Linked DNA regions of Homo sapiens. The protein of the gene in region 5 purifies or fractionates together with the protein of the main gene of each other region. This does not show direct contact. Each region holds a gene or a part of one and is shown on either strand. Other genes may lie near its edges. The genes, in order: DNM3, ALCAM, RAP1B, LETM1, CDKAL1, BPIFB1 and TTYH3.

Region 1 (3,500 bases), on a different chromosome or scaffold from region 5:
AAGAAGCTTTTCTCTGGCTTGATTTTCTCTAACTTCCTGGAGCACAGTAGGATACAGAGAAACCAGAGATTTGCCCAAGGTCAGAAGAAATCAGAGCTAGGTTTGGAACTTAATGTTAGGAACTGGGAGGCCTGTGCCAGTTCATCATCTTCTCTTCCTCCTGTTATTGTTTTAGAGCACCTCCCTCCAACCCTCACCCTGCCTCCTCCTTTTCCCATCCCTTTGCATTGGGCCAGCCTTTTTCTCTTCCGTGATACTCTCTTTCATTACTCTTCTTGATAGTTGACCAGCAGTGACATTGCATTTTATTACCTTTTTTTTCCCATACAGAATAGTGGAGACAGGGAGCAGAATTTTTCTCAGACTTAGGCAAGTTAATTTGACTGAAATAGTATACTCGTGAGTAAAGCGTGACTTTTAGGGAACAGATGGGCCCAGGAAAAGACTAAATAAGATATTGGATGTTTTTACACATTATTAATATTTATCCACCAGGTGGGCATTAGCTAGAAAGATATGCCTGAGATGGTCATCAATAGGCCTTGCTTAAACCAACACGAGCTTCTGAAAAGTTGTATGTAAATAAATAATCTAAATGGAAATGTTATTATTTAAACAAGTGGGTGAACTTTTAGGTAAAATAAAGATGTATTTGTGTAGCAAATCTGCATCCTTCAGTTTGCCTGTTTTCTATTCTTTTTGTGTGTGTGTTTGCATTCTTAGAGTGCATTGAGTGACATTGAGGTCCATTAATGTTATAGAGATTATTTTAACAATTTTTCAACAAGCATTAATATTGCATTGTCTTTAGTGTTAATTGATAACAAAAACAGAGCAGTTGTTGAGGAAAATGATGATACATTTAATTCCGGAATTATATGAATGATACAGGATTGCTTTAGATCTTGTTTTTCTCTAATATCCCTGCTGCAAGTCCTCTATTTCCAAGGGTTTAAAATGTACCTCAGTGCTTCTTTGTGACAGTGTGTCATTTTTATTTCCCACTGCTTCAAGGTCATGATATACCCATGAATAGCATATATATACATGATAGCAGTAGCTAGGTATCCTGAAGGACCTCATTGTTTATCCTTCCAGTGGCTTGGAATTGAAAGACTAATCTATTTGATAAGTAATTTGATGGGTGACTAAACTTGTTTATGGTGCTTATTTTTTTAGATTTCTCAAAAGTGAGTATTTGAAGAGGAGTCATCACAGCATGGTGATGGAGTGCAGGCTTTGCTGGCAGCTCTTGAGTCCTGCCTCTGACTCTCACTGGTAGCATGGCTCCTCATTACGGAATCTAGCCTCACTTGGCCTCAGTTCCTTCATCTGCAAAATAGGGATTGCAGACTTCACCTTTTAATCTGTGTGTGAGTTCTGAGTAAGATGGTATCAAGTGCCTGGTCCATAGTATGCATTCAATAACTGATTGCTCTTAATTTAAATCTTTTATTTAGACTGGACATTTTTTGAGTGTTTTAAAAACAAAAGTAAGTTGAGGCAGATGGTAATGCGTATTTGCAAATTCTTTTCGTGAATGTTGGAAAATTACAGTTGCATCAAAATACTTACTTGTAGATAAGGCTAATAGAATATATTTGAGCCTTCTTTAAAGAAAGCATTGCCCACATTCGTTAAATGCATTATCACAATGTGTTCTTTTTTTTTTAAACCAATATATACAAAGTGAACCCAGTTTGTATACTCTTCCCTTCCAAGAGTTCCAAAGCAGTTTTTATCATTTCATTAATCCTTCGAATTTCTGTGAGAAGATAGCAAAAGCATGTTTTGTTTACTTTAATTTAGAAATAAAAAAGATTAAGCTGGAAAAAAGTTGGGTGACATACTGGGGTCACATGGTGAGTACTAGAAATTAATGAACAAAATAGACTTAATAACAGATAATAGAATTAAAATGAATTTTTCTGACATTATTTTTAGTTTTCTCCTAGAGAATATATTTTAAGGAAGATATTTGATGCTGTGATATAAAGTAAACCATTCTTAGCATATTCCTTTTCTTTTGGAAATGTTAGATGAAATTGCAGGCAAAGATGGTGTAGAAGGGGGAAAAACAATTGAGGAAGTCTAGTTGGCGAAGCAGGACTACTTAGCAAGAGTATGGTCTGAGCCCAAGGAAACCATCTACAACCAAGTGTTCAGGAGGTAAGGTGTAATTAGATCTTAAAAGAAGTACCAACATTTTTGTAGTAGATGTTGAAATAATACCAAATCACTCTTTTTTCCAGTGGAAAGATTCATATTCTGATTTGATTGACATTCCCATAACTTGTTAACCATCAGTTTTAGCTCTGAGCTAGTCAGCTGGTTCTGTTTGGAATTACATTATTTTTAAGTTACTAGATATACCTCAGAAGCTTTGAAAAGAATAGCTTTGGGTTTCTTATCTAGTGGAGGTTTAGAACCCTGTATATGTGTGTCTGTTTATGTTTTCTGGTTAATAAAACTAAGACCCATTCTCTTCATATTTTGAAAAGAGGGGCAAAGGCTTGCAATTATTTTTATAGATCCTAGCATTCATGGTTCTGAGTCCTACTACCAGGACAGCAACAATTGTGTGGTGAGATTTCTGCATTCTCATCTAAATACCGATAGAACGACCTGCATACTGAAGTCCTTGTAAATTCAACTTAAGAAACTTTAGCCTGTTTATTTAATCCTAAAAACATATCATGTAAAATGTGTATGTGTGGGTACTTGATTTGAATTATGTACTTTGAAAGTTACATATTCTCTTAGGGCTTTGTTTTTTTTTTTTTTTCCTCAGAGTAAGTTAAGAAGGGAAGTGGCAGAAGGATCATGAGTTCCTTGCTTGCAGAGTAAGTGGGGAGATGAGAAGGAGGAAGCAATGCTTTTGTGAGTGTCCACCAGATTGTAGGGACATACGAAGAGAAAAGACTGGTAAGGTTCAACCACTGTGAGAATTAGGAGTATTTGTGAATGAGTTAGTCTGGGGTGGCTTTGGTTCTCTCCTGCTCCCTGTGGCAGGTGGTCCCTGCATATTTGTTCAAAGTGTGCCACAGGTAAGCAAGGTAGCATGCCAAGAACAGTGAGAGCTGGGTTTAGTCTGGCCTCTGCTGTCATCTGCTGGTCTTCTCAGCTCTATCTGTCTGATTTAGAGGCCCCTCCTTGGTGGCCCTTGTTAATATTTCACTGCACAGGAATCTACCGAACAGTTGGTTGCCTCCTCTGTCTGCTCAACTATTTGCAGCTTCCACGAAGCCAGGAGCTGTGTCTCCTTTATCATTTTCCGTAGTGCAGTGCCGGCATATGGCAGGAGCTAACTGAATGAATCAGCTACTTGACTCTGTACAAGCCATTTATCTAAGCTGAAACATACCTTTGTCATCAATAAATTGGTTGAGAATAGTTGAGTGGGCTTGGATTAGAACGGTTGTTGTTTTTTGAGACAGAGTCTCGCTCTGTCGTCCCGGCTGAAGTGCAGTGAGTGGCATGATCTCAGCTCACTGCAACCT
Region 2 (3,500 bases), on a different chromosome or scaffold from region 5:
AGGAAATAATTTCTGTATATGGCATGATCTAGAAGTTAATTAAGTGAGTGGGAAAAGGGATTCCAGGATTCTATTTCTGTGTCTCTGATTCACGGTTTTGAAACGACATCTAACCTCACTACATGTCAATTTTCTCTCCTGCTGAATACAGTTAGAAGGAAAAAAAACACTTCTCAAAGGTGTGGTGCTGTTTCGTTAAGGATTGTGATTGTCAGATGAAAGACCCTATCATCAGTGTTCTTTATTTTCTTCAGCGGTGGTCATAATTTTTAAAAAGGAAATGGACCCAGTGACTCAGCTCTATACCATGACTTCCACCCTGGAGTACAAGACAACCAAGGCTGACATACAAATGCCATTCACCTGCTCGGTGACATATTATGGACCATCTGGCCAGAAAACAATTCATTCTGAACAGGCAGTATTTGATATTTACTGTAAGTAATTCAATATATAATTATGCTATTTAATGTATTAGAAATAATATTCAAATGCTATTAATCTTTGAGGTCCCAATCCAATTACTCTTTGAATTCTGCTTCCAGTCTGCACCCCAAATTGATGGCACCCAAATAATCTCTTCCTCTTTAGGAGACCATAGCATGAATAAACATTTATCCATCCTATAATATCTTTCACTCTCTACATTTTATCTATGAGTGTCTCTTCTGAATTCCACTACACACTAAGTTCTTTAAAGATAAGATCTATAACTTATTTTCTGGATGAATGACAGACAAATATAGACTTTAACTGGCTTTCTAAATAAGAGATTACCATTTTAATGAAGAAATTTATTTTAATAATAAGATCAATTGCATAAGTTTGATAGGATGTTGTATTACAAGACATTTTACTTAACTAAATTGTGTATTTGAAACAGAGTATTTGTCTACAAAGGAATCTTCATGGTCATCTGTTCTAACTTCATTATTTTAGTTAGTAAAGTGAGGCACAGAGTCTTGCCCTAAATTAGCTGTAGATATTAGAATAGAATCTTTTTCTCCATTGCTGTGCTTTCCTTGTAAGACAGGTGCCAAGATAATCTAATGATTAGAAGCAAAAATTCTGGAATTCTAGTCCCAGCATTATCAATTACCATTTCTTGAAAAGTAGCTTAATTACTCTACATCTCAGTTTTCTTACTTTAAAATGGGAAAAATATAATACCTAACTGATAGTGTTGTTATAGAGAGTAAGTGAAATCACAAATCAAAAATAGCATGCTACATCACACATTAAATTGTCATTATTAAGTACTTTATTATTATTATTATATGGTCATTATCACAATATAAACATAGAGCTGAAGATATTTGGGGGGAAAATGCAATAAAGGATTTTCTTCTTATTATTAATTTATCTAAAATTTTTGTGATACTGGCATGTGTTCTACAGTAACCTAGCACTTCTACATCTATTTTAGAGAAAAGCCAGGAATGCCTGCTGAGCCTTTCGAAAGAATCACCTCACCTACATTTCTTTTTTTGGTTCCCTAGGGCACAATATCTTATATGAGAACAAAAGTGAAATTCTTCCAAAGTTGCCCTAATATTAAAAGGTAGTTTTGCCTTAAACTTGGGAAATAAGTTTCAACTTGATTTAAACCCAAGAAATTAATATTTCATTATGTATAGCTTATCTAAAATCAAACTTTTTTAGGTGAAGGCAGAATTCTTTCTTTCTTTTTTTTTTTTTTGTGTGAGACATAGTCTCACTCTGTTGCCCAGGCCAGAGTGCAGTGGCGTAATCTCAGCTTACTGCAACCTCCACCTCTTGAATTCAAGTGCTTCTCCTGCCTCAGCCTCCCAAGTAGCTGGGATTAGAAGCGCATGCCACCACACCCTGCTGATTTTTGTATTTTTAGTAGAGGTGGGGTTCCACCATGTTGGTCAGGTTGGTCTCGAACTCCTGACCTCAGGTGATCTGCCCACCTCAGCCTCCCAAAGTACTGGGATTACAGGTGTGAGCCACCAAGCCCGGCCCAGAATTCTTTCTGTTAGAAATATTCAATTGGAAATAAACCATATTAGTGTAAGTGTAGGTGTACAACACAGGAGAGAACATCAAGATAAGTAATAAGAATTGGGAAATTGGCTTCAGAAAGAATAGAAATATCTGTGAGTATGAGGCATGCAGAGTTGGGTAGACGGAGAAGTTCTTGAATGGATACGAAGAAAATGATTTTATCATGCTGGCTGTGTAAGGTGCACTTGTCATGGCTTTTAAGAAGCCACAGTGGGCTTCATGGTGAAAACACGAAGCACAAAGAAGCAGTTTAAGACAGTCCTCACATTCAAGGAGTGTACTACTCCAGTAGAGAAACAAGACACCTACATCAGAAGGAAATTGCCAATGCAAGGTTGTAAGGGTAAAAGTCTTAGGAACTCAGTATTAAGAGTCTTGAGGGCTCAGGTGCCCAAGGACAGTGGTTCTCAAACTGTAGTGTAAATCAGAAGAACATGAAGGACTTGTTAGAGCACAGATTACTGCACCCTGGCCTTGAGTTTCTGATTTAGTGGGTATAGGACGGTGATTGACACTCTGCATTTGTAACAAATTCCCTGATGGTGCTAATGCTGCTGATCTGAGGACTACGAGTGGAGAACCACTGCTCTAGGAAGACTTCAGAGAACAGAAGAAGAGTGCTAAATGGAAAGGAGAGACGAGTCCATTTCAAGAAAAAAAAATTGGCCAATTCATCTTGAGAAAGCTTGAGAAAAATGCACCAGTCCACTCCTTTCTTACCCTATTCAATCAGTAACGAGGTTTTAGAGAATCTAGCTCTTTAATCTTTGTTTTGATCTGATTTCTGCCTTCTGACACTGCCTACGTTTATGCCACCATTCCTCATTGCCTCTATTCCTGCGATGGATTTCAAAGTAGTATTTTTCCAATGAATTGCAAAATAGTATTTCTCTTGTCTGCCCACCATTCTCTGTTCACCCCCAAATAAACTGCCCTCCAAACTGCTGCCAGAAATATTTTTCTAAAACACAAATGTGACAAAAACTTCTCAGTGACTCCCCAGAGCTCTCAGATTAATATCCTTCCCCCTCCCCCAATTGCAGTATGCCTTGAGTTCGTTTTAGCCATGGTCCTACAGTATGTCTCAACCCTCATCACTGCCTGTATCCACTGTGGTCTGTTCTACTTTCCAGATTCCTTCTGTAGAGTAATACTTACATGCCTATGCATATGCTGTCATTTTCCCACCTTTATCATTTAGCAAATACCCATTTATGTGTCAAAACCCAGCTCCAGGGTCAGTTCCTCCAGGAAGCTTCCTAGTCTCATGTAATGATGGCTACCAGGATCCCTATGCTTGTGTCATATGCAGGTTTTATGTGGTCATACTCTTAATTATTAAGTTTGGTGTCTTTACAAATAGAGGAAAAGTTCATTGAGGCAGGGTTTTCAACTTCCTAATTCCAGCACTTAAGGCTTGCACAATATAGATGCCAAACAAATGAATAAATGAAGAAGGACTGTAGGATAAA
Region 3 (3,500 bases), on a different chromosome or scaffold from region 5:
CTGTGGAGATTGTGCCACTGCATTCCAGCCTGGGTGACAGAGCGAGACTCTGTGTCAAAAAAAAACATAAGACTACTAGTTGCTAAACTTTAAATCTTTTTGTTGTTGTTCCGTTGAATCCTTAATTTTATATTGGCCGGGCGCAGTGGCTCACGCCTGTAATCCCAGCACTTTGGGAGGCCAAGGTGGGTGGATCACTTAAGGTGAGGAGTTCAAGGCCAGCCTGGGCAACACAGTGAAACCCCGTATCTACTAAAAATATAAAAAAAATTAGCCGGGCGTGGTGTTACACACCTGTAATCCCAGTTACTTGGGAGGCTGAGGCAGGAGAATAGCTTGAACCCGGGAGGCGGAGGAAGTATATTGCACTTTTTGTAATTGCAGTGGGTCAGTTATTGAAAAGTTTAGAAAATGTGTTAGAAGAAAAATTTTCAGTCTCACTAGTACTTTTAAAACAATATATTACCATATTTCAAATAATACAGGCATACATTCATTCATCAGCAGCTGTGTGAAATATTTTGATTGAGCTGGGTATGATGGCTCATGCCTTGTAATCCCAGCACTTTGGGAGGTCAAAGGGGGGTGGATCACCTGAGGTCAGGAGTTCAAGACCAGCCTGGCTAACATGGTGAAACCCGTCTCTATTAAAATACAAAAATTAGCCAGGTGCAGTGGCAGGCACCTGTAGTCCCAGCTACTCGGGAGGCTGAGGCAGGAGAATCGCTTGAACCCTGGAGGTAGAGGTTGCAGTGAGCTGATAACACACCACTGCACTCCAGCTTGGGTGACAGAGTGAGACTCCATTTCAAAAGAAAAAGAAATATTTTGATTGGTATCTGTTCTCCTTCAACGTATTTATAGACAAACTAAATTTGTAGGTATGTGAAGATGAAGGGAAGATTTGTTCTCGGTGTATGGTATTCATTCAGCTAATGTTTGAATACCTGATACATGTCAGGCACTGTGTTGTTACCTTCAAATGCTCACAGTCTAGCAAAGAAAAAGTAGTGTGGGAAAATGGGATGGTCTAGATCATGCTGATGGAGCCCTACAGAACTACAGCATTTGAGTCATAGCTAATAGATTAACTTGGCAGATACAGTTGGGGTGCTTTATACATGATGATGTATTTTAAAAGCTGCCTTTAGTAACTTTTGGGGACAGGATATTTCTGTTCCACTTGAGTATATTTTTTGTATATAAATCGACTTTGGTGTATTGTTTTTAAATAGGAAACCTATTTCCAGCTGGGCGTGGTAGTTCACGCCTGTAATCCCAGCACTTTGGGAGGCCGAGACGGGCAGATCACAAGGTCAGGAGATGGAGATCATCCTGGCTAACATGGTGAAAGCCCGTCTCTACCGAAATACAAGAAAAAAATTAGCCGGGCATGGTGGTGTGCGCCTGTTGTCCCAGCTACTCGGGAGGCTGAGGCAGGGGAATCACTTGAGCCCGGGAGGCAGAGGTTGCAGTGAGCCGAGGTCGCGCCACTGCACTCCAGCGTGGTGACAGAGCAAGACTCCGTCTCAAAAAAAAAAAGAAACTAAAATGCCAATTTTTTCAAATAGTATCTTGTCATAGATTATAATTTTAACAAAGTTACATAATACTACAGTATTCTTCATTGAGCTATAATTATAGACTGTGAAAATTGTAAAAATAACTGTCAAAACATTATTGTTTTTTAACGTTCCTTTCTTTCTATTGTAGGAGCAATTTACAGCAATGAGGGATTTATACATGAAAAATGGACAAGGATTTGCATTAGTTTATTCCATCACAGCACAGTCCACATTTAACGATTTACAAGACCTGAGAGAACAGATTCTTCGAGTTAAAGACACTGATGATGTAAGCTGACTTCCAAATAAATATATTTTATTTCAAAACCCTGATTATAATTGTTTAAGTCTAAATTTAAATTCATTTTAAAGCTTGTGTATTTTGGTTGGGGGGGGGGTGTTGGTTTTTTTAAACTTTTTCCTTGAAAGGCAAAAATACCCATACATGTTTTCAAATATATATCATGTGGAAAGTGAGAAATTTCCTCCTTTGCCATTATCCTGTGAAAATTAAATGTTACACCCTTCCTTTTTTTTTTTTCCTTTGAGATGGAGTCTTGCACTGTTGCCCAGGCTGAAGTGCTGTGGTGCGATAGCTGTACCTCCCGGGTTCACGCCATTCTCCTGCCTCAGCCTCCCGGGTAGCTGGGACTACAGGCGCCTGCCACCATGCCCAGCTAGTTTTTTGTATTTTTAGTAGAGACAGGGTTTCACCATGTTAGCCAGGATGGTCTCGATCTCCTGACCTTGTGATCCGCCTGCCTCAGCCTCCCAAAGTGCTGGGATTTTAAAGGCAAGAAATACATTAGATTCTAACATTATTAATTTAGGTGCCCCTTCAGAGTCTACCATAATGGAGTTTAATTCCTCATCACACTAAATATAGCAGTGGTTCTCAAAATTGATTTTGCATCAGAATCACCTGTAGGACCAGTTAAAACAGATTGCTGGGCTGAGATCTCAGAGCTTCTGATTCAGTAGGTCAGCAGTAGGACCCAGGAATTTGCATTTCTAACAAGTTTCGAAGTGGTGTTGGTTTTGCTGATCTGCATACTGTAAGAACCAGGCTGGGCATGGTGGCTCACACCTCTAATCCCAGCACTTTGGGAGGCCAAGGCGGGTAGATCCCCTGAGCTCAGGAGTTCAAGACCTCCCTGGGCAACATAGCAAAACCCTGCCTTTACCAGAAATTTAAAAAAAAAAAAATTAGCCAGCATGGTGGCGCGTGCCTGTGGTCTCAGCTATTTGGGAGGCTGAGGTGGGAGGATCACTTAAGCCTGGGAGGTGGAGGTTGGCAGTGAGCTGAGATCACATCACTGCACTCCATCTAGGGTGACATAGTGAGACCCTGTCTCAAAATAAATACATAAATAAGACTCATTGTACTGCAGTTTAATTTTAGCAAATATTGTGAGAGCTGGGAGACACCCATGGTAAATGCTTTTATTTTCTGGACTTCTGAAACAAGGGAATTTGGGGGGACCCTACATAATTACAGCAACCTCAGGGAACATTTTTTAATTTGTAAATCCATTTAATAAGTGGCTTGATTTTTAGTAAATTTTGATTGGCTTTTTTTTTTTTTTTTTTGAGACGGAGTCTCACCCTGTCGCCCAGGCTGGAGTGCAATGGCACGATCTCAGCTCACTGCAACCTCTGCCTCCCAAGTTCAAGCAATTCTCCTGTGTCAGCCTCCCAAGTAGCTGGAATTACAGGCGTGTGTCACCATACCCAGCTAATTTTTGTGTTTTTAGTAGAAACAGGGTTTCGCCATGTTGGCCAGGCTGGTCTCCAACTCCTGACCTCAGGTGATCCACCCGCCTCGGCCTCCCAAAGTGCTGGGATTACAGGCGTGAGCCACTGTGCCTGGCCTTGATTGACTTTTTTAATACAAGACTATGAGAAACTAAAAATTCTATTTTGGGAGCCTTCCGT
Region 4 (3,500 bases), on a different chromosome or scaffold from region 5:
TCATCCATAATTCTTGATAAGTAGACAAGTCCATCAAAACAGCTGTACAGTCCTCATTGTTTAAATTTTTAAGTAGATGTTCAAAATTGGGAACTTTAAAAAAAGTTACGTGAATAAAGTACAGCTTTTATGTTTTGTTGTTAGCCCAGGCTGGAGTACAGTGGCGCCATCTTGGCTCACTGCAACTGCCACCTCCCGGGTCCCGGTTCAAGCAATTCTCCTGCCTCAGCCTCCTGAGTAGCTGGGATTACAAGAACATACCACCATGCCCAGCTGATTTTTGTATTTTTATTAGAGATGGGGTTTCACCATGTTGGCTAGGCTGGTCTTGAACTCTTGACCTCGTGATCTTCCCGACTCAGCCTCCAAAAGTGTTGGGATTACAGGTGTGAGCCACCGTGCCCGGCCAGCATTTATGTTTTAGTATGAAATTTAAATGCTAAAAAGTTGCTTGACAAATTCAACATCCATTCCTAATAAAAAGAGTAACAGACAGAACAAAGATTACTTAAACCCAAAAGCTAACATCATATGTCACAAACACTAGATCCTGTATTTTCTGCTATTGTGATACCGCATGACTGACTACAGCTGTTCTGACACAGATCTGGCTACTGAGCTAAGAAATGAAACCACCTCAGAAGCAGAAGCCCTGGGAAAGAAGAGGCAGATGATTACTATGTACTAAGATCACAGCCATAAACTAAACCTGGGCTGCTACAAGAGCTGAACAAATAACAGGAAAGGGGCCAGATACAAGAAAATTGTACAACTTAGCAACTTACGGGACAGCAATGATCACTTAGAAAAGATAATGAAAAGAATTAATGAAAATAATAAACATCTGGGAATTATCTAAAATGCAATGCATGTGGCCTATACAAAGAAAACAGGCCGGGTGCAGTGGCTCACACCTGTAATCCCAGCACTTTGGGAGGCCAAAGGCAGGAGGACTGCTTGAGTCCAGGAGTTCAAGAGCAGCCTGGACAACATAGTGAGAACCTGTCTCTACAAAAAATACCAAAAAGAAAAAAATTTAGCAAGGCATGTTGGTAATGCCTGTAGTCCCAGCTACTCAGGAGGCTAAGGTGGGAGAATGGCTTGAGCCTGGGAGATCAAAGCTGCAGTGAGCCATGATTGCACCACTGCACTCTAGCCTGGGCAATGAACAGAATGAGATCCTGTCTCAAAAAAAAAAAAAAAAGTAATATTCCTTCCCAACTGGTTTAATGACACTTCAGATACAATCCCAAAAAGACTGTTTTAGAAGTAAAATGGTTCAGCTCATCTAGAAGGAAGGTCCAGACTGACGAGGTTTGGGGGAACTGGTCCCCAGGGAGGAACAACTGCTGGAGAACTCACTAAAGAAAATAACGGGAGCAGCTAGGCGCAGTGGCTCACACCTGTAATCCCAGCACTTTGGGAGGCCGAGGTAGGTGGATCATCTGAGGTCAGGAGTTTGAGATGAGCCTGGCTAATGTGGTGAAAATTTTGTACTTTTGTACTAAAAATGCAAAAATTAGCTGGGTGTGGTGGCGGCGTCTCTAATCCCAGCTACTAGGGAGGCTGAGGCAGGAGAATCGCTTGAACCCGGGAGGCAGAGGTTGCAGTGAGCCGAGATTGCACCACTGCACTCTAGCCTAGGTGACAAGAACAAAACTCGGTCTCAAAAAAAAAAAAAAAAAAAAAAAATTAGCTGGGTGTGGTGTGCGCGCCTGTAATCCCAGCTACTTGGGAGGCTGAGGCAGATAACTGCTTGAACCCGGGAGGTGGAGATTGCAGTGGGCAGAGATCACGCCACTGCATTCCAGCTTGGTGACAGCGCGAGACTCTGTCTCAAAAAAAATAAAAATAAAAAAAAAAAAGAAAATGCAACCTTAAGGAAAAAGACATAAGAAAACCAATTTCTTTTCTCATCCAAAGTTATAATAAAACGTTATTCGTGGACCTTAAAGTTGCAGTTTCTGCCAGGCATGGTGGCTCACACCTATAATCCCAGCACTTTGGGAGGCTAAGGCAGGCAGATCACGGGAGGTCAGGAGTTCAAGACCAGCCTGGCCAACATGGTGAAACCCCGTCTCTAATAAAAATACAAAAATTAGCCAGGTGCGGCCGGACGCGGTGGCTCATGCCTGTAATCCCAGCACTTTGGGAGGCCATGGCGGGCGGATCACGAGGTCAGGAGATTGAGACCATCCTGGCTAACACGGTGAAACCCCATCTCTACTAAAAATACAAAAAATTAGCCGGGCGTGGTGGCGGGCGCCTGTAGTTCCAGCTACTTGGGAGGCTGAGGCAGGAGGATGGCATGAACCCGGGAGGTGGATCTTGCAGTGAGCTGATATTGCGCCACTGCACTCCAGCCTGGGTGACAGAGCGAGACTCCGTCTCAAAAAAAAAAAAAAAAAAATTAGCCAGGCGCAGTGAGGCATGCCTGCAATCCCAGCTACTCGGGAGGTTGAAGCAGGAGAATCACTTGAACCTGGGAGGCGGAGGTTGCAGTGAGCCAAGCATGTGCCACTGCACTCCAGTCTGGGTGACAGAGCAAGGCTCTGTCTCAAAAAAAAAAAAAAAAAAAAAGAAAAAAAAAAAGTCGCAGTTTCCAAGAACCTACAGACATTAAATGAGACTTGCTGTACATCAAAATACTGACACTGGGCACTTTGAGGGCACAGTTGCCAGTGCCCACTCCAACTGGGAGTCCAACAATTAAATTCCATTTAATTCCTGTTAGGGGACAGGAAGCCTTCTGTCCCCAGCTCTCCAAGTGCAACTGGGCACTGAGGTTAGGAATGTTTCTATACTGTCTATAGATTCACTGAGGCATGTGACAATCATTTTCAAAATGGAAAGATAAAGGTTTAAAAGAAACAAAGAACAGGAAAGTAGGATACACTGTTTCCCTCAAAAATCAAGAGTCACTCGTGACTCTCCACCATTTTCAAACCCTGTTTTCAAACAGACAGGTGCAGAGTGATACTGATTTACTCACAGGCAGTTCCTCAACCCCAGGGTGCTGGCACAGCTGAGATGAGCAGGATCCCCTGGACTACCTGTAACAGGAACAGGGGAAAATAAATGAGTAGTAAATCAGGGATTTATACTGATACCTTTTTTTGTTGTTGGTTTTTGGAGTTTCGCTCTTGCGCCCAGGCTAGAGTGCAATGGCGTGATCTCGGCTCACTGCAACCTCCACCTCCTGGGTTTAATTGATTCTCCTGCCTCAGCCTCCTGAGTAGCTGGAATTACAGGTGCCCACCACCATGCCCAGCTAATTTTTTTTTTTTAGTAGAGACAGGGTTTCATTCACCATGTTGGCCAGGCTGGTCTCAAACTGCCGACCTCAGGTGATCCGCCCGCCTTGGCCTCCCAAAGTGCTGGGATTACAGGCATGAGCCACCGTGCTCAGCCTTTTGTTCATTTTGATTTATTTGACTTTGCCCAGGCTGGAATGCAGTGGTACAGTCACGGCTCCCTGCAGCCTTGAACTCCTGGGCTCA
Region 5 (3,500 bases):
CTGGCCTCTGGAGATGTTTTTTTTATTTATTTATTTATTTATTTATTTATTTATTTATTTATTTATTTATTTGAGACAGGGTCTTATTCAGTCACCAATGCTGGAATGCAGTAGAATGATCACAACTCACTGCACCCTCAATCTGCCAGGCCCAAGCAATCCTTCCACTTCAGCCTCTCGTGTAGCTGGGACTATAGGCACACACCACCACACTCGGCTAATTTCTGTATTTTTTATAGAGACGGGGTTTTGCCATGTTACCCAGGCGGTCTCAAACTCCTGGACTCAAGTGATCTGCCCACCTCTGCCTCCCAAAGTGCTGGGATTACAGGCATGAGCCACCGGGCCCGGCCACTCTGGAGATTTTTAAGGGCCTTGCCAATGAGACTGGGGACACAAATAGGATGACTCCTCAGTTGAGGACACAAATAGGATGACTGAAAAGGTGTTTGCCACTATGAATTAGTGCACATTGCGGTTCTCCTGAGTCTCTTTGGCAAATAATAGTTAAATACTCACCTACAAATAGTTCTCTTATGGTTGATTAAAAGCCCAGCTTTCTACTATATAAACATAGCAAGTCTTTTTAACTCTGTATATATTACTGTCATTGTTATCATCTCCAGATGAAATAGAGCAGCCCAAACATGATGGGCCTTACTCTCCACGTTGATTCTAAGAAGAAGAAAGAAGCAGCATAGTTTTCAGTGGCTCTACAATTTCACATTGTTGTTAATTTCCTGAAAACTTGATGTTAAATGAAGTGTAATTGCAGATTTCCTTAAGAACCATTGACAGATACTTATCCTAAGTCATAAGCAACTCACACTGTGAAATGTGTGCAAACATTCTAAGTTTTCTTCTAGAAGAATATACTTCAGTGATACCCAATATTCACCAGCCCTTTTTGATAAACAGAGCCATTGAAGCTCAACATGGAAGTTGGGGGAAATTTCTTTTTTTACACTTGATTTTTTTAAGGGGATTAATGTTGCCAGAACTTCCATTGTTTTTCAGACAGTGAAAAGAGTCTTTAGTAAGTGTCATCTCAGAGACCTTACAACTTTTGGCTAAGAGGGCTATATTTTGAATGAGATAGTAAACTAGATAGTAAATTATGGTGTATTTAGGTACTGGCATTGTATGATAGAGAGGGGAGTTTGATTTGTTTTTTAATTGTTAGGTGGTCTATTTAGTGCAGCTGTGTTTATGTTTCCTTCATGGTAACCGCCTGAACATGGTGACAAGTCCCTACAAATGAGAATAGGAATTTTAAAAAATTATCTTGCCAGTGGGCTTTAATTTGGGGGGGTCATAATTATTAAGTAGCATTGGTAAAAATAATCCCCGGCACAGTCATTCAGTACAGTTGTTTTGCTGTATCAGACATTTTGACAACCTTGTAAAAAGAGTAACTGAGTCCAGGCATGGTGGCTCATGCCTGAAATCCCAGCACTTTGGGATGCCGAGGCAGGCGGATCACCTGAGGTCAGGAGTTCGAGACCAGCCTGGCCAACATGGCAAAACCCCGTCTCTACTAAAAATATAAAAATTAGCCGGGCATAGTGGCGCATGCCTGTAATCCCAGCTACTCGGGAGGCTGAGGCAGAAGAATCGTTTGAACCCGGGAGGCGGAATTTGCAGTGAGCCAAGATCATGCCACTGAACTCTAGCCTGGGTGACAGAGTGAGACTCTGTCTCAAAAAAAAAAAATAATAATAATAATAATACTTGATACCTTAAGTGCTGCATTTCACAGTAGAATAAACTTGGAAATTATAGAATTTCCTTAGAATAGTCACACTTCTTTACCCATTGTTTTGGCTGATTTACTTCTTTGCTATTAAAAATGGGTGCCTAGATCATAATGTACATCAATTCTGTGGAAAATTAGCAATTCCATGTTTTTGCTGTCTTTCTCTTTAAAAAATAATAAATGAACATGGGGTCATGACTGCAGCAAAGAGACAGTTGCCTGTGACAGAGAAAATGTATATAATAAGTAAATAGCTCTGTGAATTACTCAGTACTTTCAGAATTGTATGTAAGATATGAAATGTGGAGGTGCAAGGTCCTAATGACTAGTTTTCCGAGGCATTTTCTTTAGTGTTACATCCCTCATAACTCAAATGAATGTTTATTACTATTCTTTCATATTGCCAAAATATTTTCATGAATTTGGATTAGAAGCAGCTTGTTCTGGCTTGTTTTGCAACTTTGTTTCAGGAAACAAAGTGATATTTAGAAGATTTTTGTATGTCATAGAAGCTTTAATTATCTTACTTATGTTGAAGGAGATCAAATTCTGTTTCAGAGTTATGTAAGAAAATAAGAGTTTATACTATGCTAATTTTATGTTGCCAGATAATTAATGTCTTTCAAAAAATTTGAATCCGTGATTTGAACAGGGTTCGCTGTTAAATAACCAGCAATGTAGAGTCTACTTTAAATTCAAGAAGACGCTACTTGGTCCAGACCTACCTGGGCTAGCCTTTATTTTTATTTTTGGATTCACAGGTGTTTACCCTTATCTTTCCTTTCTTTCCCTCCCCTTCTCTCCACAGATTGGTGAAAGACAACAAGTGTTAGTAACAGAAGAATCTTTTGATTCCAAGTTTTATGTTGCACACAATCAATTCTATGAGCAGGTAAGAGGCACTTCAGTATTCTTGAGTTTTCTCCAAAGTGAGAAAGAGTTCTGAAAGTTTAAGCAAAGGGCATTTAAAGGGGAGAGTGTTGAATCTTGTCACAACAAGGCTGTTTTATCGCTTCAAGCCAGCCAGGCTAACATGGACTTTATCTTTGTGACTTACTCTACAATATGTTCTGTACAAAGGAATAGGTGTATTTAGTCTATTTTAGTTCACATTAATCTTTGACAGGACCAGCTTTAGGCTTTTGGGCGTTTGGAACCAGGCAATTAGCACTGCCAGAATTCCCACACCCTGGCAAAGCAGGGGGGAAAGTCCTGCTCAGACCACAGGAAGGATGTCTGCATGGGCGACAGCAGCATGAAAGGGCAGGGATTTCCTCTCGCTGGTACATCACCCGGACAGTTTTTTTAGTTGGTTGGTTGATTGGTTGGTTGGTTGGTTGGTTTTTTAGTTTTGTTTAGTTTTAGCATCTGTTTTTTTAACTTCTACCTTAATAAAAATGCTGGGAGCAGAGGAAAAGGAGTCTATTCCTTGGACTCAACTCTAATTGTATGAACAACTGTGCAGACCAGTGTGAGGATCAAACCAGCTTCACTGTGAGAGCTTTGAAGGCCATCCCTAGGGGCGCCCCCAATTACTAGCCCTCCTTCCCTGGCCATCTAAGTTGGCCTGCCTTTGCCCACCGAGGAGCCTGACTTCTGTTTCAGCATCAGGGTTTCTACTCCTCCAGGTGGGAGAGCAATTCAAAAGTGACTGAGGAAAAGAGAGTGCCTCTTTCAGGGTCATTGACCCTGGCAAGGGCCAAGGCCAGGGAAGAGATGGGATACGCCCTCCTCTCCCATCTTA
Region 6 (3,158 bases), on a different chromosome or scaffold from region 5:
TTCATTCATTCATTCATTCATTCAGTAATTCACTAAATATTTTTCGAGGGTCTTCTATAGGCAAGCCATGCTTCTGAGTGCTTGAGGCCACCGAAATGAACAAATGGAAAACACTCCCATCTTTTTCAAGCCTACCTTTTAGCAGAAGAGGCAGATACACAAGCCCTAAAGATGTAACATCAGGCTGAGTGGAGGAAGGCTGAGAAGAAAAATAAAGCAGGCTCAGGAGGAGAGAGTGATGTCAGGGAAGGGGGTGCTGTTTCAGATGGGGTGGCCAGGGAGGGCCTCTCTGAGGAGGTAACATTTGAGCCAATGCCTGAGGAGGTGAGGGGTGAGCCCTGTGGGTAGCTGGGAGAAGTGTCCCGTCAGAGGGACAGCGTATTAGGCCGTTCTCACACTGCTATAAAGAAATACCTGAGGCTGGGCTCAGTGGCTTGTGCCTATAATCCCAGCACTTTGGGAGGCCAAGGTGGGCAGATCACCTGAGGTCAAGAGTTCGAGACCAGCCTGGCCGACATGGCAAAACCCAGTCTCTACTAAAAATACAAAAATTAGCTGGGCGTGATGGCGGGTACCTGTAATCCCAGCTACTCGGAAGGCTGAGGCAGAAGAATTGCTTGAACCCAGGAGGCGGAGGTTGCAGTGACCTGAGATCACGCCATTGCACTCCAGCCTGGGCAACAAGAGTGAAATCCATCCCCCCCCCAAAAAAAAAAGGAAAGAAAATAAATACCTGAGACTGGGTAATTCATGAAGAAAAGAGGTTTAATTGGCTTGTGGTTCTGCAGGCTGTACAGGAAACACGATGCTGGCATCTGCTCAGCTTCTGGGGAGGCTTCAGGAAACTTCCAATCATAGCGGAAGGCAAAGGGGAAGACTGCACATCACATGGCCCAAGCAGGAGCAAGGGGTGGGAGGTGCTACACACTTTTAAACAACCAGATCTCACAAGAGCACACTCACCATCACGAGAACAGCACCAAGAGGATGGCGCTAAACCATTCACAAGAAACCAGCCCCATGATCCAATCAGCTTAGACCCCACCTCCAACATTGGGTTCTACATGAGATTTGGGCGGGGACACAGATCTAAACCATATCAGATGTCAAGTGCAAAGGCCCTGAGGCAGGGATTGTTGGTGTTCCAGGAAAGATGAGGAAGGAGGCCCAGGATCTGAGGCAACATCCAAGGCAGGTAACCTCATAGGCCTGAGATGCATGCATGCACACACACATATACACACACACACGCACACCTTTATACACCTATACACATACATACACACGCACATACAAACACATACACCTTTATACACATACATACACACACACACCTTTATACACCTATACACATACATACACACGCACATACAAACACATACACCTTTATACACATACATACACACACACACCTTTATACACCTATACACATACATACACACGCACATACAAACACATACACCTTTATACACATACATACACACACACACCTTTATACACCTATACATATACATACACACACACATACATATTGCACACATACACACCACACACATACACACTACACACACACACATAATACACACACCACACACATACACACTACACACACACATACACACACACATAATACACACACCACACACATACACACTACACACACACCACACACATACACACATACATACACACACATACACAGAGACGCACACATACACATATACACACATACACACACTACACATGCACATACACATACACACACACACACACACCATGTGGCCAGATGGTCTCAGCTCAAGGCCAGGATCATGTCCATCTTGTCCATGCCTCTGTCCCCGGTGCTCAGCATGGCCTGGCACACAGTAGGTGTTCAATAAATGCTTGGTGAGCAAATGACTCTCCGTGGCATCTGCTGGGGAGAGGATCTATGGCAGTGTCACCCTCGCTCCCAAATACTACCCTTAAGAAGAACAGCTCACAGTCACTGTGTGCCAGGCTCTGGGGCATCTCTCCCCCTCTAGAGTGGAGCCAAAACTTCAAGAAGGCAGGGGTTTCTGTCTGCTTTGTTCTCTGTTGTGATCAGTGGCTGCACACAGTAGGTGTTTAGTAAATGCCTGCTAACTGAGATGGACACCTTACTGTCATTAGCTCATGCAGAGGAGGGGCCCAAAGCAGGGGGTGATCAAGGCGGGTGCTAAGTGCAAATCCCACTTCTGCCACCTACTGAGTGCGTGACTTTGGAAAGGGGCTTTTGCCATCTTCAAGTCTCAGTGTCCCCATCTGCAAAATGGAGATGACATCAGGACCTGGTGTGGCATTAATGTTCACACACAGACCCTCCACCCCGACCCTTCTAAGAATTCTGTATTTGTGGGTTCAGGGTCATGGTCCCCCGGTGCCAGCAGTCACCTTATGGAGGACAAAACCAGCATAAACCACAAGGCAAAAGGTTAAAGAAACCTGTTTTCTGACTTTTCCCCTCCAATTCCAGGATGCCCTTGTGCTTACTCCAGCCTCCTTGTGGAAACCCAGCTCTCCTGTCTCCCAGTGAAGACTTGGATGGCAGCCATCAGGGAAGGCTGGGTCCCAGCTGGGAGTATGGGTGTGAGCTCTATAGACCATCCCTCTCTGCAATCAATAAACACTTGCCTGTGATGCCTGCCGTCTGGAGTCTCTTTGTCCCGGCACAGGAGTCATTTTGCCCCTGGCAGGCTTGGGGACTGGATGGCTGAGCCACACCTGGGTCATGTTCAGGCACATCTGAGCCAATCTGGGTGATGTCTGGGCCACATGTGGATGATGTCCACAGTCTTGACCACCTCCCTGTGCTTCAGGAATCAGAAAGCCAGCTCTTCCCACCTGCCTTCATGTCAGCCTCAAGACCATCTTCAGTGGGATGGCTTTTAGGGTGGGGGACATATGTTTTGTTTATCTTGGCAGTGTGGTGGACAGAGGACTCTCTGAACAATGTGGATCTGGGGGCAGATGAACTAGGCTTGGAGCTCTGGCTGGCCTCTTAATGCTTCTTTGACTCTGGGATGTAGTTTCCCCTCTGTGGGCCTCAGTTTCCTTCTCCGTAAAATGGGGATAGTCATTGTCTCTGCCTTGGAGGGCTTTGGTGAGGAGTAAATGAGAGAACAGTTCCAGATACATGG
Region 7 (3,500 bases), on a different chromosome or scaffold from region 5:
AGAGGGCAGGGGGTGGAGGGGCATCTGGGGTCGGCTCTGTGCAGCTCCCCAGCCAGTGACTGTCGAGAGGGGCTCCCGTGCTGCCTGAGCATCTGAGTGAATGGGGGGCTGTTGTTCACAGGAGGGATTTGGAGGCCCACAGGAGGCCTGAGACTCCCTGGTGGCCCTGCAGCTGAGCTGGCAGGGCTGGGCCTGAGGCCTCTGGCGTGGCCCGGGGCCAGTCAGTGCTGCATAGTGAGTCCTGAATGTCAAGTGGGTCTGGCTGTCCTGCCCCGGGCAGGGGCCCTTGAGGGCAGCAGAGCCTTCTCTTCAGCTAGAGCATCGCAGGCCTGCACCCTCGCTCTGTCGCTTCTTCCTGCGTGACCTTGGGTGGTCCAGACACTGTCCTGGGCTTTATTCGGGGGAGGCCTGCCTGCTCAGCTCCCACCAGCCCTTTGTGACCCCGTGTCCTCAGGCAGGGATCAAGTTCATGCCCACTGACCTCAGCCTCTCTCTCGGGCTGTCTCCTCCAGCTCAGGGCAGGCCAGATGCAGGACAACAGCTACGGACTGTGGTGGGTTGCGAACCCAGGCGGTGGGAGCCCAGTGGTCAGGGAAGGCTTCCTGCAGGAGGTGGTGTTAACTGGCTTGCCATGGAGGTTGCAAGCCCGGCTGCCGACAATCAGAGGGTTAGGATTTGCCTGCTCATTTCTGACTCCTCCATGGGCCGTGCTGGCCCTGGCAGGTGATGGTTTCACTGGGACATCTGCCTTCCAGGGCAGATAGTGGGCCCTGCCTCAGTTTGCCTAGCATGGGGGACGTGTTTTCCACTAGAGCCTGGAATGCCCAGATGTTTCTGTTGAGACCTTAATGATAAGACTGAGGTCACCATACAGAGACCTTGGGGAAGAGCTTCTGGGCTGGGGGAACGGCAGGTGCAAAGGCCCTGAGGCAGAGAGAAGCTTGAGCCTCGGGGAGAGGCCTCAGCCCCACGTGCCAGAGGGTCGCTCTGGTCTGACTGCGCACGGGGAATGTGCTGCCTCAGGAACTGGTGAGCCCTCTGTTCCAGGCACTGTGCCAGCCCAGGCTGGATGGCCACTCAGAGGGGATCTGAGCTCTGGGAGTAGGGCCAGTGTTCTCCTAGCAGAGTTGGGAGCCTGGCTCCTAAGAGCACAACACCTCTGTCTGTGCCGCCACAAGGTGAGGTCAGCCTTGTGCCCAGTTGCAGCCTGGGGGGCAGTTCCCTGGGGCAGGGCTGGCCTGTTATCATCCTCCCCACTCATCAGAAGGAAATGAGTTCTGGTTAAAACGGCAGTGTTGGTCGCCTGTCGCCTGTCTTGTCATTTACGAAAGCAGTACACGTTCATGGAACATTTGGGGAAAAGGGAAGAGCGTGAGACAGAAGCGTCCCTCCAGCTGGGTTCAGTCCAAGAGCATAGAGCTGTAGGGTGGGTGTCCCTGAGAACTGGAATCCTATTGCTTTTGACATGTCTCGTACTTTGGACCGTGTTCCAGATGCTTGTCCAGCGTCCCACGGTGCCAGGCAGGATTCTGTACCTACAGATGACAGAAGCGGGCCAGACACGGAGGCCCCCGGGGAGCTGGGTGGAAGCTTCAGGAGCAATCCCTGAGTGGACAGGAGCTGATGAACTAGGCTGGGGGTGTACAGCGAATGGGACCCTGCATTGGGGGGTGGAGGTGGGCAGGAAGCCCCTGATGGCTGGTCCCAGTCCACTCAGGATTTCCATCTTGGCCGGTGTCTGCATTCCTGGGGAGACTCCGATTGGCTGAGCTTGCCTTTTGGCCAGGGGGTGTGAAGCTGTGGGCCCTGGACCTGCTTGGGGTGGGTGTCAGGCCACCCTTGGCCCGGCCGCTGCCCGCATCAAGGGTTCCTATATCTGGGCTCCTGGTTTTTGTGGTTCTGAGGGTACTCTGGCCACCTCTGTCCCCAGGAGACTCTGGGGTTCTCAAGCCCCTTCCTTGGAGTGCAGCAGCCTGGGACCCTCTAGAAGTCCCCGAGGTCTTCACGGCTTTTTGTAGGTGTGGATGTTGGGGTGGTTATTCTTGCTCAGGGTGCTGGCTCCCTGATCTCCCCAGTTCTAGCATCACCAGGGGCCACTCCAGTCTGTGTGTGCGGGACCCCCGCCTGCCCCCCACTCGCCTGAGACTCGAGGGCCAGCTCTAGGACCCCTCTTCTGGGCATCTCCATGGTGACCCTTCTTCCTCCCCTGACCCCTGGGCAGGCCCTGCCAGCCAACCCCGTCTAAGGGATTTGCAGTGTCAGCCGCTCTGACCCCCGGCCGGGGGCTCTTGGTCAGGCTCTGGGGGAGCGGGGAGCCCTGCAGCTTGGTTCCCCAGGCCACGGCGGCTCTCCCCGGATGCTTGTGCTGCTCGTTTCTAAAGCACTTTTCTTGGAGAGCCACCCAGTGGCCCTGGGAGGTGGACACTGTGTCCCCGACATAAGCAGAAACGGGGGCCGGCCAGCATGGGGGGCCGGAAGACTGGGCACGGGTTCCAGCTGCAGCCCAGCCACGTCCGTCCCAGTGGATACAGCGTCAGCACAGTTCGTGAACCCAGGGGTGCAGGTTTAGGGGGCTCAGGGGCATCTACACTTCCCCCACCTGCCCCACCGTCAGTTCTGCTGAGGCCTCGGCTAGAGAAGAGGAACCGAATCTGCAGCCAGGGGCCTGGGGTCAAGGACATGGGAAGTGCCTGACGTGGCCACCGGGGAATTGGCATGTGACAGCGGGTGGATGGTGGGTGTGGGAGGGTCACAGGAGGGCCTCCTGTACCCGGGCCTGCCGCTATGTTCTGCAGGGAGCCCACCCAGGCCCTGTGCTGGGCCTCACACCATCCGAGGGGGCTTCTCACAGTCTTGGGAGGCTGGCTGAGACCTGAGTCCTGTGGGGCAGCACCCACTGTGGCTGGGTCAGGCCCATGTTGGCCGAGGGTGTGGGAGGAAGCCGGGCCACCCACAGAGTGCCAGTGCCTTCGGCCTCTGAGGAGGGTACCAGCCACAGTGCCCCTAGCCGTTCTGCCCCCCTCGGGCCTGTGCACGCTGGCTGGGTTCCTGGCCATCGTGGAAGAGCACTCCTGAAGTTCTGGGGTGCACCCAGCTCTGAGCCCTGCAGCCCTGTGTCTGGGGTTCGGCCGTGCCCTCTGGGCTGCCTCTCCCTGGTAGGGAGCTGATCCCGGAGATGGGGCTCCAGTCTGGCGGCTCCTGGCTGGGTCTGAGGCCTGGGGCCCGGTCCCCAGGCAGCTGGTGCAGAGGGCTGCAGACAAGTGGGAAGAGCAGGGGATTTTCCGGGTGTCACGCTGGGAGATGTGTCGGAGCACGGGGACCAAAATAGACACGCTTGCTGCAGCTCTTTGGTGTCTGTTCCTTGCACGAGGGGGAGGGCGGGCGTGGGCAGCGGGAGAGCTGGGGTCCCCCGGCTACAGGGTGCAGGAAAGGGGCCCGGCCTGTGGGGAGACGGGCAGGAGCGGCTCTGAGCCTCAGCCCCAGGGCTGCCTCTCTGGCCT

The links.
Region 1: the proteins of CDKAL1 (region 5) and DNM3 purify together in Homo sapiens (affinity purification with mass spectrometry; 2 studies listed by BioGRID and IntAct, with this or other methods). This does not show direct contact.
Region 2: the proteins of CDKAL1 (region 5) and ALCAM purify together in Homo sapiens (affinity purification with mass spectrometry; one large-scale study listed by BioGRID and IntAct). This does not show direct contact.
Region 3: the proteins of CDKAL1 (region 5) and RAP1B purify together in Homo sapiens (affinity purification with mass spectrometry; one large-scale study listed by BioGRID and IntAct). This does not show direct contact.
Region 4: the proteins of CDKAL1 (region 5) and LETM1 purify together in Homo sapiens (affinity purification with mass spectrometry; one large-scale study listed by BioGRID and IntAct). This does not show direct contact.
Region 6: the proteins of CDKAL1 (region 5) and BPIFB1 purify together in Homo sapiens (affinity purification with mass spectrometry; 2 studies listed by BioGRID and IntAct, with this or other methods). This does not show direct contact.
Region 7: the proteins of CDKAL1 (region 5) and TTYH3 purify together in Homo sapiens (affinity purification with mass spectrometry; 2 studies listed by BioGRID and IntAct, with this or other methods). This does not show direct contact.

Annotation. Positions count from the first base shown.
Region 1 is NC_000001.11:171,847,998-171,851,497, forward strand, and holds part of DNM3 (dynamin-3), read left to right. Parts: intron 1-3,500. UniProt on the Homo sapiens protein: Microtubule-associated force-producing protein involved in producing microtubule bundles and able to bind and hydrolyze GTP. Most probably involved in vesicular trafficking processes, in particular endocytosis.
Region 2 is NC_000003.12:105,534,409-105,537,908, forward strand, and holds part of ALCAM (CD166 antigen isoform 1 precursor), read left to right. Parts: intron 1-254; coding exon 255-437; intron 438-3,500. UniProt on the Homo sapiens protein: Cell adhesion molecule that mediates both heterotypic cell-cell contacts via its interaction with CD6, as well as homotypic cell-cell contacts. Promotes T-cell activation and proliferation via its interactions with CD6.
Region 3 is NC_000012.12:68,652,399-68,655,898, forward strand, and holds part of RAP1B (ras-related protein Rap-1b isoform 1 precursor), read left to right. Parts: intron 1-1,713; coding exon 1,714-1,854; intron 1,855-3,500. UniProt on the Homo sapiens protein: GTP-binding protein that possesses intrinsic GTPase activity. Contributes to the polarizing activity of KRIT1 and CDH5 in the establishment and maintenance of correct endothelial cell polarity and vascular lumen.
Region 4 is NC_000004.12:1,846,157-1,849,656, forward strand, and holds part of LETM1 (mitochondrial proton/calcium exchanger protein precursor), read right to left. Parts: intron 3,054-3,500; coding exon 2,993-3,053; intron 1-2,992. UniProt on the Homo sapiens protein: Plays an important role in maintenance of mitochondrial morphology and in mediating either calcium or potassium/proton antiport. Mediates proton-dependent calcium efflux from mitochondrion.
Region 5 is NC_000006.12:21,195,457-21,198,956, forward strand, and holds part of CDKAL1 (threonylcarbamoyladenosine tRNA methylthiotransferase), read left to right. Parts: intron 1-2,564; coding exon 2,565-2,648; intron 2,649-3,500. UniProt on the Homo sapiens protein: Catalyzes the methylthiolation of N6-threonylcarbamoyladenosine (t(6)A), leading to the formation of 2-methylthio-N6-threonylcarbamoyladenosine (ms(2)t(6)A) at position 37 in tRNAs that read codons beginning with adenine.
Region 6 is NC_000020.11:33,307,214-33,310,371, forward strand, and holds the end of BPIFB1 (BPI fold-containing family B member 1 precursor), read left to right. Parts: intron 1-2,494; coding exon 2,495-2,554; 3' UTR 2,555-2,658; downstream 2,659-3,158. UniProt on the Homo sapiens protein: May play a role in innate immunity in mouth, nose and lungs. Binds bacterial lipopolysaccharide (LPS) and modulates the cellular responses to LPS.
Region 7 is NC_000007.14:2,634,986-2,638,485, forward strand, and holds part of TTYH3 (protein tweety homolog 3), read left to right. Parts: intron 1-3,500. UniProt on the Homo sapiens protein: Calcium-independent, swelling-dependent volume-regulated anion channel (VRAC-swell) which plays a pivotal role in the process of regulatory volume decrease (RVD) in the brain through the efflux of anions like chloride and organic osmolytes like glutamate.